Homo sapiens: one gene and its partners. The protein of the gene in region 1 interacts with the protein of each later gene in a pairwise test. Each region holds a gene or a part of one and is shown on either strand. Other genes may lie near its edges.

Region 1 (4,070 bases):
CCCTCTCTTGAATCGGGGTCTTATGACCTACAATCAAACGAGGTAGGCCAGGCAATTTCTTTACTGCCAGTTTTTACACAAAAAGGCAGAAGGAAAGTTGGATTCATATTTTTTAGGTTTTATGGCTAGCTTTGAGTCTAGCTTTGGTTTATATGTTCCATCTTGGGAAGGAAGCAGTCTAGTTCCTATAGCTAGCTTCGGGGAAGAATGGGAGGGAGAAAGAGGAAGGTAGGAGAAGGAGAAAAAGTTACTACGGAGGCCTTCATTTTGTAGCATTGTTTTCTGAGTCCCAACACCTTTTATTTTAAAAGCCTGTAGGAAGTCGCCTATTTAATAACTTGGCCCATTACACGTTGCCAATTCTCTTGTGATAAAGGCTGCTACCAGCATCAAAGAGAACAGAAAACTAACAATAGAGAAGTAAACATTAACACACCAGTGAGTTTCTAGGTTTAGATGTGCGAGTTGGCTAGATATTTAAATGATAATTATAAATTTTAATAAACAGGGAAGAAAGAAAAATAAGCCAAAAATGTAATACGGGCGTCCACAGCGAGGACCAGAATTCATGGGATCAAAAATTTTTTTTTCTTTTCTTTGAGACGGAGTTCCGCTCTTGTTGCACAGGCTGGAGTGCAATGGTGTGATCCGGGCTCACCGCAACCTCTGCCTCCTGGGTTCAAATGATTCTCCTACCTCAGCCTCCTAAGTAGTTGGGATTACAGGTATGCGCCACCAGGCCCGGCTAATTTTGTATTCTTAGTAGAGATGCGGTTTTTCCGTGTTGGAGACTGGTATTGAACTCCCGACCTCAGGTGATCCGCCCGCCTCAGCCTCCCAAAGTGCTGGGATTACAGGCGTGAGCCACAACGCCCGGCGGGATCACTAATTATCCGTGTTTTTCTCTTCGGGAGGAAAATCCTTTTGGTCAGATTTCCCTTGGCTTGGTGGTGGAGAGGGTGAGATCTTGCAGTTTTCAAACACTTCCTAAGGGGGTTCCGTCCCCAAGAGAGCAAGCAGCAGAAATGCCAGAGGAACCGTGCCTATGGGGACAAAGCTGAACTCCTCATGGAAGGAGATTACTGCAGTTCCGGTCTTGTGAGCCAAAGCTCCTGTTCAATCGTCCTAGAGCATCCCAAGCAGCAAATGATTTTAAACATGTTAATGTATTTAATCTCATTTAGTTGTTAAAATATGCCTAAATTTCCTCTTTGGGAACGCAAGACTTGCAGAGATGACTCCATGGAGAGCGGACTCTGCCGGCGGGAACTGGAGTCGTTGGTGACGTCATCCCAGTCTGATCTGTGAAGGGTAGGGCCAGCAGGCAGCACCAAAGTTCCCGTATGCGCGTTTTCAGTCTTCATTTAGGTCCGAATTCCCGGCATATAAGAATACTACCGTCGCTTGTTTTTCAGATTTTTGCGGCTATTTTCGTTGGTGTGTTGGTCATGTCTGGTCGCGGCAAAGGCGGAAAGGGACTGGGTAAAGGAGGCGCTAAGCGTCACCGTAAGGTCCTGCGAGATAACATCCAGGGCATTACCAAGCCTGCCATCCGGCGCCTTGCTCGTCGCGGGGGTGTCAAGCGCATTTCTGGTCTCATCTACGAGGAGACTCGCGGGGTTCTGAAGGTGTTTCTGGAAAACGTGATTCGTGATGCTGTGACTTACACGGAGCACGCCAAACGCAAGACAGTGACAGCGATGGATGTGGTCTACGCGCTGAAGAGACAGGGACGCACTCTTTACGGCTTCGGCGGCTAATGCTACCGCTTAAACGACTCAGCATCTCGACTTCCCAAATCAAAGGCCCTTTTCAGGGCCGCCCACAGTTTTCCGCAAAAGAGCTCATGACTTGTTAGACGATTGGTTGGTCTCTTTATAAGTTAATTGTTCCTGTCAACAGGTACGTATATTTTTCAGCCGTTTTTTTTTTTTCGTTCCAAATTACATTTGGGGTTTCGGCATACGATTTTTTAGGCTACGATCCTTTTATGTTTATTGTAGTAGGGCCTTAGATTGCACTGAAAAGGCTAGGGTAATAGTGTCTGTTTACCTTACCACTTTTATTTTGAGTACCTAAAAATGCATGGTTTTCGACATAAGTGGGAAAACCGCAAGACACTGCGTAACCGCTCAAAATGGCGGAGAGCGAAGAACAAAGCCGGTGCCTGGCAATGGGCCGGACCCGCGAATTAGCGCAACCAATCATCTTCCTGGAAAGGAGTGTGGGCCTTAAATTCTAGCGGCCTGTTTTCTATTACTTAACCTAACGACCGAGTTTAGGTGTGTAGAAGTTCCTGGGGTAGATAAGCTCACGCAAGGAGAGGTTGCAAGCATTCATTTCGGAATTCTATTAAGCCAACCCAGTTGTCCCTTAGAAGTTATGATATTTGCTGTTTTTTGAATAAAAGAATTTGACTCTCTTTAAACCCTAAAGCTTGAAATTTAGCATTTATCTCACATGAGACAAATGTTTAGGAACTCATGTTTAGGAACTCATGTTCCTGCCTGAGGCAGGAACTGAAACACCAGATCACTTGCATCGAGACCGTGAGACTCCCTATGTTTCATCCATCATGATTGCGTCCTTATCCCTCCCTGATTTCCTGTTTTCTCGCCCTTCTCGCTACATAAGCCCCCCAATTTTGGTCGGGGAGACGGATTTGTGATTTCATCTCCTCCCTCATGAATACTCATAGAATTTTTCCAAACCTACTGAATCTGTATGTAAGGTTGACTCTGTAAGGCATATATATATTCCAGCTCCCCTTCACTGCCACAGAGCGCTCATTCCATCCTGGGATTACTTCTCCCTCTGAAAATAAAGTCTTTGTTACTTCCTGCTTGGATCTCATTGTCTATTGTTCAAAAAAGATATGTCGTCATTCCACAGTTATGCCCCAGATGTCTTGGAGATGTGGTTTGTTTAAAGAAGGATCCAGCCATAACTTCCGTTGTGTCTCCAGTTTTCTTATCTAAAACAGGCTCCTCTCCCCTACTTCCCCATTTTTGAACATTGATTTCTCGGAGACCAGACTTACAGAATGTTTTTGTTTTGCTTTTGTTTTGTATTGGCTTGATTCTTAATCGTTTTACTTGGCTTCTGTACTCCCCATGTCCTGTAAAGTACAAGTGACTTTCATACACTTAATTGAAATCGGGTGAATATGCCTGTCAGGAACAGTTTACAGATGTAATGTACATAGTACACTACATCAGAAACACATGATGTCCGGTTTATGTAAATTCCAAGTGATAGAAAAATCGCAAGTTTGGGCTGGGCACAGTGGCTCATGCCTCTATTCCGAGCACGTTGGGAGGGCAAGGTGGGTCGATCACCTGAGGTCAGGAGTTCAAGACTAGTCTGGCCAACATGGTGAACACCTGACTCTATTAAAAATAAAAAAATTAACTGGGCATGGTGGCAGGCACCTGTAATCCCAATTAATCAGGAGGCTGAAGCAGGAGAATCGCTTGAACCCAGGAGGAAGAGGTTGTAGTGAGCCAAGGTGGTACCACTGCACTCCAGCCTGGGCAACAGAGAAAGACTGCCAAAAAAATTAAAAAAAAAAAAAACCGTTGGTTTAGGGTGATAGTTCCATTGAAAATCAGATTTTTCTTCTAGCCAGCAAGTTGTCCGTAGGCTGATACTTTGAAATCAGGAAAATAAATAGTTACTTTGAATGTCATTTTTAAAAAGTGTGAGCTCGTGCATATATATGAAAAGCATCATGTTATTGGTGCTAAGGCACTAGTTCGAGGAGAAAAAGTTTTATGAGGATGTTAATGTAACAACAGCAACAAAAAGGAGCACATAGCATGTACCAAGCATTGTTCTATGCTCTGGGAATTACAGCAGTGAATGAGAAAGAACAAAACGATATGTGTGCATAGAATTTATATTTATTGGGTGGGGGTACACACACAAAATAAGTGAAACAGTGTGTCAGATGGTGCTGACTGCTATGAAGATCACTGAAGCAGGAAAAGGCATAGCATGTGGAGGGAAGAAGTGATATTTTAAATGATATGGTCTTGAAAAATTTTACTCATAAAGTGATAAAGAAAAAA
Region 2 (3,500 bases), on another chromosome or scaffold:
CACCTTCAAGCAGGGTGTGGAGGGACTCTGTGGTCTGGGTGGGGCTTACCCCACGTGGAGAGGCGGCGGCTTCTGCCAATTCAGCAGAATTCCCTTGGCCACAGGACAGGTTCAAGAAAAGCCAAGTGACCCTCTGCAGGTAAAAATCTTCTTGCTCAGTCCTTAGGAGTTTCTAGCTCTCTCCTTACTGGACTTGAAGAGAACACACAGTTTGTACCTGCTCCCAGCCACCTTGTAACACAGGTGGAGCCTGTCTGAGAATGGAGACAATCTTTGGGGCAGCAGAGGTTGCAGTGGAGAAAAACAAGGTGCTGGCACCAGCAGTTGAGCTCCTGCACAAAGTTGTGCTTCACTTTCCCCCTTAAAACTAGCATGGCTGCCAGGCCTGGTGGCTCACGCCTGTAATCCCAGCACTATGGGAGGCCAAGGTGGGGGGATCATGTGGTCAAGAGACTGAGACCATCCTGGCCAACATGGCGAAACCCCGTCTCTATTAAAAACTACAAAACTTAGCTGGGTGCGGTGGCAGGTGCGTGTAATCCCAGCTACGTGGGAGGCTGAGGCAGGAGAATCGCTTGAACCTGGGCAGCAGAGGTTGCAGTGAGCCGAGATTGCACCACTGCACTCCAGCCTGGGCGACAGAGTGAAACTGTCTCCAAAAAAAAAAAAAAAAAATCCTTAATAGCATGAAATATCCAATCTGTTTAGTTTTTCTCATCAAATGTTTTTTATGAGCAATCCAAATGAGGACCACCCACTGCATTTGGTTAATATGTCTGCCAAGACGCTCTTAAAATCTAACAGTTCTTACCCATCTTTTTCTGTACAGTTTATTTGTTGGGGACATAGGTCATATGCCTTGTAGAGTTTCACATATTTGGGGTTTGTTGACTGCATCCTGTTGTCTCACTTACCATGTTCCTCTGTCCCCTGTATTTCCTATAAACTAATATTAATAGTTAAGATTTGACACAGTTGGGTGTTTTTTTTTTTGACACTTACTTTTGTAAGAATACTTCATAGGTTGGTGCAGCGTTCTTCCTGTTGGCATCACCTCTGGCATCTGATGCGTGATTATTGCCTGTGCATGTTAATGATCGGTCGGTGGGTTTGGGTGTTGATGGTCTGACACATCCACTTTCAAGTTTCTTAATATCGTTTGTTTGTTTGTTTGTTTGTTTGTTTGAGAGACAGAGTTGCTCTGTTGCCCAGGTTGGAGTGCAGTGGCACGATTATAGCTTACTGCAGCCTCAAATTCCTGGGCTCAGGTCATCCTCCCACTTCAGCCACCTGAGTACTTGGGACTACAGGCACATGCCACCATGCTCTGCCAATTTTTTGGTTTTGTTGTTGGTGTGTGTGTGTGTGTGTTTAAGACAGGGTCTTGCTCTGTCGCCCAAGCTCCATGGAGTACAATGTTGTAGAGATTGGGTTTTGCTGTGTTGCCCAGGCTGGTCTCAAACTCCTGAGCTCAAGTGAGCCGCCACGCCTGGGTGATATCTTTTCATCTAATGTTTTAGCAGCTATTTATGATCCTTGCCCAAAGCCTTCAATTCACTGGGGATATATGTGGTCTTTGAACATGATTAAATATAAGTGCAGGTCACTGTGGCCAAGAAAAAAAAAGTTACTGCAATCATGACCGCAGTTGGCTCAGCTCTAGTGGGGTTTATTACTCATACCATACTTACATTATCCACGTGAGGATCCCCAGGCATGACTTGTTCATAACAAGAGGGCAAGAGAACCAGTTGGTACATCTTCTCTCCAACTGTGAAAGGGAATATACTTTAATAAACTAGTTTTATGTTAGTTCCTGATATCCTGGTTTTACATGGAAAACTATCATAAAAGAATCAAAATGCAGGCCGGGTGTGGTGGCTCATGCCAGTATTCCCAGCACTTTGGGAGGCCGAGGCCAGCAGATCACCTGAGGTCAGGAGTTCCGGACCAGCCTGGCCAACATGGTGAAACCTTGTCTCCACTAAAAATACAAAAAATTAGCCAGGCGTGGTGGCACGCGCCTATAATCCCAGCTACTCTTGAGGCTGAGGCAGGAGAATCGCTTGAACCCAGGAGGCAGAGGTTGCAGTGAGCCTAGATTGTGCCACTGCACTCCAGCCTGGGCAACAGAGCAAGACTCTATCTCAAAAAAAAAAAAAAGAATCAAAATGTACCATTATAAAATTGTTGATGGGAGAAAGACCCTTAGCAAAGTGGAAATCAATACCTGTAAATTAAGGTTAACGCACTCTGAATACACTAAACAAACTTTGGTCCATTAAAAGGTCTTTTTGTCACTTTTTTTTTTTTTTTTAAGAGACGGACTCTCGCTCTGTCGCCCAGGCTGGAGTGCAGTGGCGCAATCTCAGCTCACTGCAAAGTGCAAACTCCACCTCCTGGGTTCACACCATTCTACTGCCTCAGCCTCTGGAGTAGCTGGGACTATAGGCGCCCGCCACCATACCCGGCTAATTTTTTTTGTATTTTTAGTAGAGACGGGGTTTCACTGTGTTAGTGAGGATGGTCTTGATCGTCTGACCCCGTGATCCGCCCACCTCAGCCTCCCAAAGTGCTGAGATTACAGGCATGAGCCACCGCGTCTGGCCCTTTTTGTCACTTTTTAAGCATCTTTTGGAGTATTAAGATCACATTGATTCTAAATATTTGTTTGCATTCATCTAGTTTATAGCACTTTGTTGCTCCAAAAGATTTCTCCTAGGATCTCCTAGTAAAATCCTAATAAAGACCATTTGTAACACACATCAAGACTTGAGGATTCTGTTTGTGTTCTAATTTCATGTATCCATAGGCTCGGAAACTCCAAGACTGTACACCTACCTTATCATTTTGTGATTCTTTATGTCAGTCAGCAAATACTTTATGACACCTGGGGTCTACTCAGGAGATTTAAGGCTGAACGAGACTGGTCACTCAATCATAGATCATGAAGGCAGAGGTAGAGCCCTGAGTAGCTAGAGTCAGAACAAAGCCAACCCTGGTGATGCTGCAGTAAATGATCACCGTTACAGGGAGGGTGATTGACAAAGCCAACCTGGTGATGCCACAGTAAATGATCACCGTTGCAGGGAGGGTGATTGACAAAGCCAACCTGGTGATGCCACAGTAAATGATCACCGTTGCAGGGAGGGTGATTGACAAAGCCAACCTGGTGATGCCACAGTAAATGATCACCGTTACAGGGAGGGTGACTGGGAGGCAGCCACTTTTGACCTTATACTAGGATCCTTAAAAGGTAATTTTTGCAAAAATATTCCAAAGCAGCGTCAGTGTCCCCAGGCCCTTTCCTAGGCCTTTGACTTTCAGATGTACTGTTTGGAGCTCCTGTGTCCTCAGCCTGGCTGGTTTTCTGTTCCTCGGAAGTGGGGCTGCCCGTTGCTGGGGCTTCATATGACTTGAGCAGGTCCCCCGCATCTCTTGTAAGATTTGCAGTTTTACTTCACAAGACCAGCGAAAATGTCAGTGTGCAGGATGGCTGC
Region 3 (3,500 bases), on another chromosome or scaffold:
GAGGGAGCGGGTGAGTGAATATTTACTAAGTGCCTGCTGGGGGCTGGCCTGCTGTAGGCGTTGTCAGCTGTTTCGCTGGGTCCCCACAGTGTCTGTGTCAGGACGGCCAGTGCTCTTTCTGAAGGGAAGCTGAGAAGTCTGGTGACCTCTGAGGACTCCCCACTACAAAATGACCTGCTTGGGTCTTTCCGCCCCTCCAAATGTGTGGCAGCAGAGGTGGGAAATTTCTCACTGCTGGGCCAGGCCTGTGGATGCAGGGCCCTTCGATTCCTTAAAGGGAAAGTCAGTGCTTGATTGGCCACAGCCATTCCAGCTAACGTTGCTTTTCCCTGTTGCAGAGAAAGTCAAGCAAAGCCAAGGAGAAGAAGCAGAAGCGGTTGGAGGAGCGAGCAGCCATGGATGCCGTTTGTGCCAAAGTGGACGCTGCCAACAGGGTGATTCTCCCTTTCTTCCCAGTCCCTGCCTCCTGGGACTTCAGCTTGGTTTATAATTTGACTTATTTTGTCTCCACCCTGTGGCAGAATTGTGACACTACCCACCCACACCGCCTCTGCCTCCTTGCTGTGCAGGGAACTGAGCTCATACCTGTGTGTTGGAAGTTGGCGCCAGCAGTTGGCCCAGGTGTTTGGGAAAACGTGGATTCCAGTGAAGTGGCTGCCTCCCTGTGGATCTTCTTCCTTATGAATAGAGGAGGATCTAGATAATTTTTTTTTCTTTTGTGTGAGACAGGGTCTCACTCTGTCATCCAGGCTGGAATGCAGTGGCACTATCTCGGCTCACTTCAACCTTGCAGCCTCTGCCGCCTGGGCCCAAGTGATCCTCCCACCTCAGCCTCTCAATTAGCTGGGACTATAGGTGCCCACCACCACACCCGGGTAATTTTTGTAGAGACGGGGTTTGGCCTTGTTGCCCAGGATGGTCTTGAACTCCTGAGCCCAAGCATTTCACCTGCCTTGGCCTCCCAAAGTGCTGGGATTACAGGCGTGAGCCACAGTGCCCAGCCCCTGCCTCCATTTAGTATCCCATTTTTTGGTCATTCTTTTAACCCACTCATAGTAAACACTCATTTATAAGGATGTGGCTCAGGGGCTTGATTTTCCATTTGGAGTTGTAACCAGGTAAAGTCAGTGTGCAGCAGATCAGGTAGCCTCTTCTTTGGGTTAGCTGTGCTGTGAGCAGGTTGTATGCCCACAGGCTAATGAGGTCTCCTCTTGCCCTGTCAGGTGATGCCAAACTTAACTCTCCTGGGCCTTTCCACCAAAGCCTTCCTCGCACATGTGACTTCAGAGCTAGGCAAATGGTGGGTTTTGGGAGGCTGCTCCTGGTTCTGAAGTTAGTCTCCCGTTGTGGGTCCCCACAGCATCCCACTCCAAGACAACAGCTCTTGGGATAGGATCTGCACCTCCGCCCCACTTGTCTGTGCTGTTCCTCTTTTCTTTCCCTCCACAGCTTGGAGACCCTCTGGAGGCTTTCCCAGTGTTCAAGAAATATGATAGAAACGGGTGAGTCACATTGAGCATTACCAACTGCTGTCTCCTCGAGTGTCTTCAGGAATTCCCTTTCCAGAGTAGGCTTCCTCAGACACAAATTTTCTCATTGTTCTTCGTATTTACGAAAAAACAGGGCTGGGTGCGGTGGCTCACGCCTGTAATCCAAGCACTTTGGGAGACCGAGGTGGGTGGATCACATGAGGTCAGGAGTTCGAGACCAGCCTGGCTAACATAGTGAAACCCCATTTCTACTAAAAATACAAAAAATTAGCTGGCACGGTGGCGATCGCCTGTAATCCCAGCTACTCGGGAGGCTGAGGCAGGAGAATCACTTGAACCCGGGGGGCAGAGGTTGCAGTGAGCCGAGATAGCACCATTGCACTCCAGCTTGGGTAACAAGAGTGAAACTCCATCTCAAAACAAAACAAAACAAAACAAAACAAAAGCAGAAACTGACTCGTGCCCTATATTGATATAAAATCCCCCAGGTAGGGTGGCAGAAGAATCCATAAATGAGCAAAGATTGCACTTAATCTCAGACTGATGTCTCTTTAGATAAATTTTTCTTTTATTTTTTGAGATGGAGTCTTGCTTAGTCACCCAGGCTGGAGTGCAGTGACGCAATCTCGGCTCACTGCAACCTCCGCCTTCTGGGTTCAGCCGATTCTCCTGCCTCAGCCTCCCAAGTACCTGGGATTATAGGTGCGTGCCACCACACCTCACTAATTTTTGTGGGTTTTTTTTTTTTTTTTTGAGACGGAGTCTCACTCTGTCGTTCAGGCTGGAGTGCAGTGGTGCGATCTCGGCTCACTGCAACCTCTGCCAGGTTCAAGTAATTCTCTGTCTCAGCCTCTCAAATAGCTAGGATTAAAGGCACCCGCCACCACGTCCAGCTAATTTTTGTATTTTTAGTAGAGTCAGGGTTTCACCATCTTGGCCAGGCTGGTCTTGAACTCCTGACCTCATGATCCACCTGTCTCAGCCTCCCAAAGTGTTGGGATTACAGGTGTGAGCCACTGCGCCCAGCTAATTTTTGTATTTTTAGTAGAGATGGGGTTTCACCATGTTGGCCAGGCTGGTCTCGAACTCCTGACCTCAACTGACCCACCTGCCTCAGCCACCCAAAGTGCTGGGATTACAGGTGTGAGCCACCGCGCCTGGCCTGATGTCTCTTCAGGACTGATTATTCTCTCTGCAAAGAATCATTGAGCTGAAACAAACTTGGAAAATTATCTAGGCTGACACTCACATTTAATGCATGGGAAACTGAGGCCCAGAGAGTCAAATGAGCTTTCTGAGTTTATGGAGTTTCCCCTGACAGCTGAGGGGCTTTTAATTTCCAATCTAGTGCTCTTTCCCTGAGTATACAGTATAATTGTTAAAAGCCAATTCCTGGCTATTTGGCCCTGAACAAATTACTTTTCTTCTTTAAAAAGAAAAATATTTGCTGGGCGTGGTGGCTCACGCCTGTAATCTCAGCACTTTGGGAGGCCGAGGTGGGCGGATCACGAGGTCAGGAGATCGAGACCATCCTGGCTAACACGGTAAAACCCCGTCTCTACTAAAAATATAAAAAATTAGCCAGGCATGGTGGCGGGCACCTGTAGTCTCAGCTACTCGGGAGGCTGAGGCAGGAGAATGGCGTGAACCCGGGAGGCGGAGCTTGCAGTGAGCCAAGATTGCGCCATTGCACTCCAGCCTGGGCAACAGAGCAAGACTCCATCTCAAAAAAATGTATATATTTTTTGGTAGAGAAGGGGTCTTGCCTATGTTGCCCGGGCTGGTCTCAAACTGCTGTCCTCAAGTGATCCTCCCACCTCGGCCTCCTAAAGTGCTGTGCCCAGCTGACCCTGAACAAATTACTTAACCTTTCTGTTCCTCAATTTTCTATTTAAAAATGGGCCTGGGCCAGGTGTGGTGGCTCATACCTGTAATCCCAGCACTTTGGGAGGCTGAGGTTGGAAGGATCGTTTGTGCCCAGGAGTCCAAGACCAGTCCTGGCGACATAGG
Region 4 (3,500 bases), on another chromosome or scaffold:
TTTTTAATGTTTAGTTCTCATTTTTCCTGAGATTCACAGAGAATAAATTTTGTGTTTCCTTGTTCAGCTCTGACTACTCCATCTTTTTTTTTTTTTGAGGTGGAGTCTCGCTCGTTCCCCAGGCTGGAGTGCAATGGTGCAGTCTCGGCTCACTGCAACCTCCACCTCCCGGGTTCAAGCAATTCTCCTGTCTCAGCCTCCCGAGTAGCTGGGATTACATACAGGCGCCTGCCACCACGCCTGGCTAATTTTTGTATTTTTAGTAGAGACGGGGTTTCACCGTCTCTACTGTCACCCAAGTTGGAGTGTAGTGGTGCAATCATGGCTTACTGCAGCCTCGACTGCCCAGGCTCAAAATGATCCTCCTTGCTCAGCCTCCCAAGTAACTGGAGGTATAGATAGGCATGTGCTACCGCGCTCAGCTAATATTTTTTATTATTTGCTGCCCAGTTTGGTCTTGAACTCCTGGGCTCAAGCGATCCTCCTGCCTCAGCCTCCCAAAGTGCTGGGATTATAGGCATGAGCCACTGCATCCGGCTGACACCTTAACTCCTTTTATTTATTTTTTTTTTTGAGACAGAATCTCGCTCTGTCGCCAGGCTAGAGTGCAGTGGCGTGATCTCGGCTCACTGCAGCCTCCGCCTCCTGGGTTCAAGCAATTCTCCTGCCTCAGTCTCCTGAGCAGCTGGGATTACAGGCGCCCACCACCACACCTAGCTAATTTTTGTATTTTTAGCAGAGGCAGGGTTTCACCATGTTGGCCAGGATGGTCTCGATCTCTTGACCTCGTGATCCACCCGCCTTGGCCTCCCAAAGGGCTGGGATTACAGGTGTGAGCCACCGTGCCCGGCCAACCTTAACTCTTAAAACATCTACCTTGCTGGCCAACCTGCTGACCGATGAGAGAATTTACATAAAGGCATGTTGAAGAAATGTGGGGCTCTGCAGGTGAAAGGCTGTATCCTTCCTGCCATCCTTATTGTCTGATTTTTGCTACACATGAGGAGCAAACTCACCTGCCTTCTGTTTCTCACATGGAATTCAGCCAGGGGCTTCAGTCTCCTCAGCCTTTTTTCCCTTTTTGTTAAGGCTTTTTCTTTTCTTTTTTTTTTTTTTTTTTGAGATGGAGTGTCGCTCTGTCACCCAGGCTGGAGTGCAGTGGCACAATCTTGGCTCATTGCAGCCTCCGCCTCCCAGGTTCAAGTGATTTTCCTTCCTCGGCCTCCCGAGTAGCTGGGAGCCCGCCACCACGCCCGGCCAATTTTTTTGTATTTTTAGTAGAGATGGGGTTTCACCATATTGGCCAGGCTGGTCTCGCTTTTTCTTCTTTTAGCACACTTGTTTTCCTTTTAAATTAACCAGCCCTATGTCTATTCCTTTCGTCCTAATACATAGCAGATTACCTTTAAAGTAAAAACATAACTTTTTTTTTTTTTTTTTGAGACAGAGTCTCGCTGTGTTGCCCAGGCTGGAGTGCAGTGGCACAATCTCACTCACTGCAATCTCTGCCTCCCAGGTTTAAGCGATTCTCCTACCTCAGCCTCCCATGTAGCTGGGATTACAGGTGCCCACCACCACGCCTGGCTAATTTTTTTGTATTTTTAGTAGAGACGGGGTTTCACCATGTTGGTCAGGCTGGTCTCGAACTGTTGGCCTCAAGTGATCAGCCTGCCTTGGCCTCCCAAATGCTGGGATTACAGGCATGAGCCACCGTGCCCAACCTAAAAACCTAAATTCATGAAACAGATTAGTTGACAATAGGGGAGTTAATTGTATTTCAGAGAGAATGTTAGGTCTCTAAAATTTATTATTCCCTAGGTTGACATTAAAGTGTAAGGCAGTTACTTAGTCAGATTTTTTTTTTTTTTTTTTTGAGATGGAGTCTTACTCTGTGGCGCGGGCTAGAGTGCAGTGGTGCTATTTAGGCTCACTGCAATCTCCGCCTCCTGGGTTCAAGCAATTCTCCTGCCTCAGCTTCCCAAGTAGCTGGGACTATAGGCGCCCGCCACACCACCCGGCTAATTTTTTGTATTTGTTGTAGATACAGGGTTTCACCATGTTAGACAGGATGGTCTTGATCTCCTGACCTTGTGATCCGCCTGCCTGGGCCTCCCAAGTGCTGGGATTACAGGCGTGAGCCATTGCTGCTGGCCAGCTCTGCTAATTTTTAAAGTTTTTGTAGAAATAGGATTTTGCCATGTTGCTGGTCTCAAACTCTTGGGCTCAAGTGATCCTCCTGCCTCAGCCTCCCAAAGTGTTGGGATTACAGGCATGAGCCACTGTACTTGGCTAGTTTGAATCTAAAAGAAGTTTTTTTTTTTTTAATTAAATTTTCAGTATTAAGCTAAAGAGTATAGATATTTTTAGACTGGGTGCATTGGCTAACTTCTATAATCCCATCACTTTGGGAGGCCGAGGTTGGAGGATCACTGGAGGCCAGGAATTTGAGACCAACCTGGGCAACATTGCAGGACTTCATTTCTACAAAAAATAAAAACACCAGATGTGGTGGTGTACACTTGCAGTCCTGGCTACTCGGGAGGTTAGGGCAGGAGGATTGCTTGAGCCCAGGAGTTCGAGGCTACAGTAAGCTATGATCACACCACTGTGCTCCAGGCTGGGCAGCAGAGCAAGGATCTTGTATAGTTTTTTTTAAGGTATAGTTTTCTTTTCTTTTTTTGAGACAGAGTTTTACTCTATGGCCGAGGCTGGAGTGCAGTGGCGTTAGTTAGCTCAGCTCACTGCAGACTCCTCCTCCTGGGTTTAAGTAATTCTCCTGCCTCAGCCCCCACCCTAAATAGCTGGGATTACAGGCGTGTGCCACCACGCCCCTCTAATTTTTGTATTTTTAGTAGAGACCAGGTTTCACCATGTTGGCCAGGCTGGTCTTGAACTCCTGACCTCAGGTGATCCGCCCCCGCCAGGCCTCCCAAAGTGCTGGGATAACAGGTGTGAGCCACACCCCTGGCCAAAGTGTAGATATTTTTATGGCTTTATGTAGATAGGTAGATATAAATATGCGTATATGTGAGTACGTATTTTCCTAATTGGAATATTGGATGTGCAAAAATCTATATTTTTAGAGCTATTTTATATTTTTACTAAAATATTTGTTGTTTTTAGGAGTGATTACTTGGTGAGTGTCAGCCACTGCGTAGGGCGCTTGGGCATATAGCAGGGGTACTTACAAATGAGCCCTCTTGGAGCAGCTTCCTTTTGGCTGGTTCAGGGAGGTGAATGCTGTTGGAAAGCCTTAGCTCTTCACATGCTGCTGGGTTTTGGTTGTCTGTGGATATGTAGGGACCTTGGGTCTTGGTCTGTAAGCCCATTTTCTCCCTGGGTGGCCACCTGAATCTAGCAAGGTGTAGTTTAAGTAGAGTCTCTTCAGAGAGTTGAGGATGTTGTGCTTGTTAAGGAAGACCGGTTTACATCTGTGTGTACATTACCTTCCTCAGGCTTCCTCAGGCCCAGTGCTCATGGAAGGGACGTTGAGGGACTGA

The links. The genes of interacting proteins can lie anywhere in the genome.
Region 2: the proteins of H4C5 (region 1) and RRP1B interact in binary tests that used the Homo sapiens proteins (3 or more experiments, as listed by UniProt).
Region 3: the proteins of H4C5 (region 1) and NAA40 interact in binary tests that used the Homo sapiens proteins (3 or more experiments, as listed by UniProt).
Region 4: the proteins of H4C5 (region 1) and KDM4A interact in binary tests that used the Homo sapiens proteins (3 or more experiments, as listed by UniProt).

What each region holds. Positions count from the first base shown.
Region 1 is NC_000006.12:26,203,197-26,207,266, forward strand, and holds H4C5 (histone H4), read left to right. Parts: upstream 1-1,413; 5' UTR 1,414-1,448; coding exon 1,449-1,760; 3' UTR 1,761-1,825; downstream 1,826-4,070. UniProt on the Homo sapiens protein: Core component of nucleosome. Nucleosomes wrap and compact DNA into chromatin, limiting DNA accessibility to the cellular machineries which require DNA as a template.
Region 2 is NC_000021.9:43,666,060-43,669,559, forward strand, and holds part of RRP1B (ribosomal RNA processing protein 1 homolog B), read left to right. Parts: intron 1-3,500. UniProt on the Homo sapiens protein: Positively regulates DNA damage-induced apoptosis by acting as a transcriptional coactivator of proapoptotic target genes of the transcriptional activator E2F1.
Region 3 is NC_000011.10:63,945,502-63,949,001, forward strand, and holds part of NAA40 (N-alpha-acetyltransferase 40), read left to right. Parts: intron 1-338; coding exon 339-434; intron 435-934; exon of another isoform or gene 935-1,198; coding exon of another isoform or gene 1,199-1,300; intron 1,301-1,449; coding exon 1,450-1,502; intron 1,503-3,500. UniProt on the Homo sapiens protein: N-alpha-acetyltransferase that specifically mediates the acetylation of the N-terminal residues of histones H4 and H2A.
Region 4 is NC_000001.11:43,656,649-43,660,148, forward strand, and holds part of KDM4A (lysine-specific demethylase 4A), read left to right. Parts: intron 1-3,500. UniProt on the Homo sapiens protein: Histone demethylase that specifically demethylates 'Lys-9' and 'Lys-36' residues of histone H3, thereby playing a central role in histone code. Does not demethylate histone H3 'Lys-4', H3 'Lys-27' nor H4 'Lys-20'.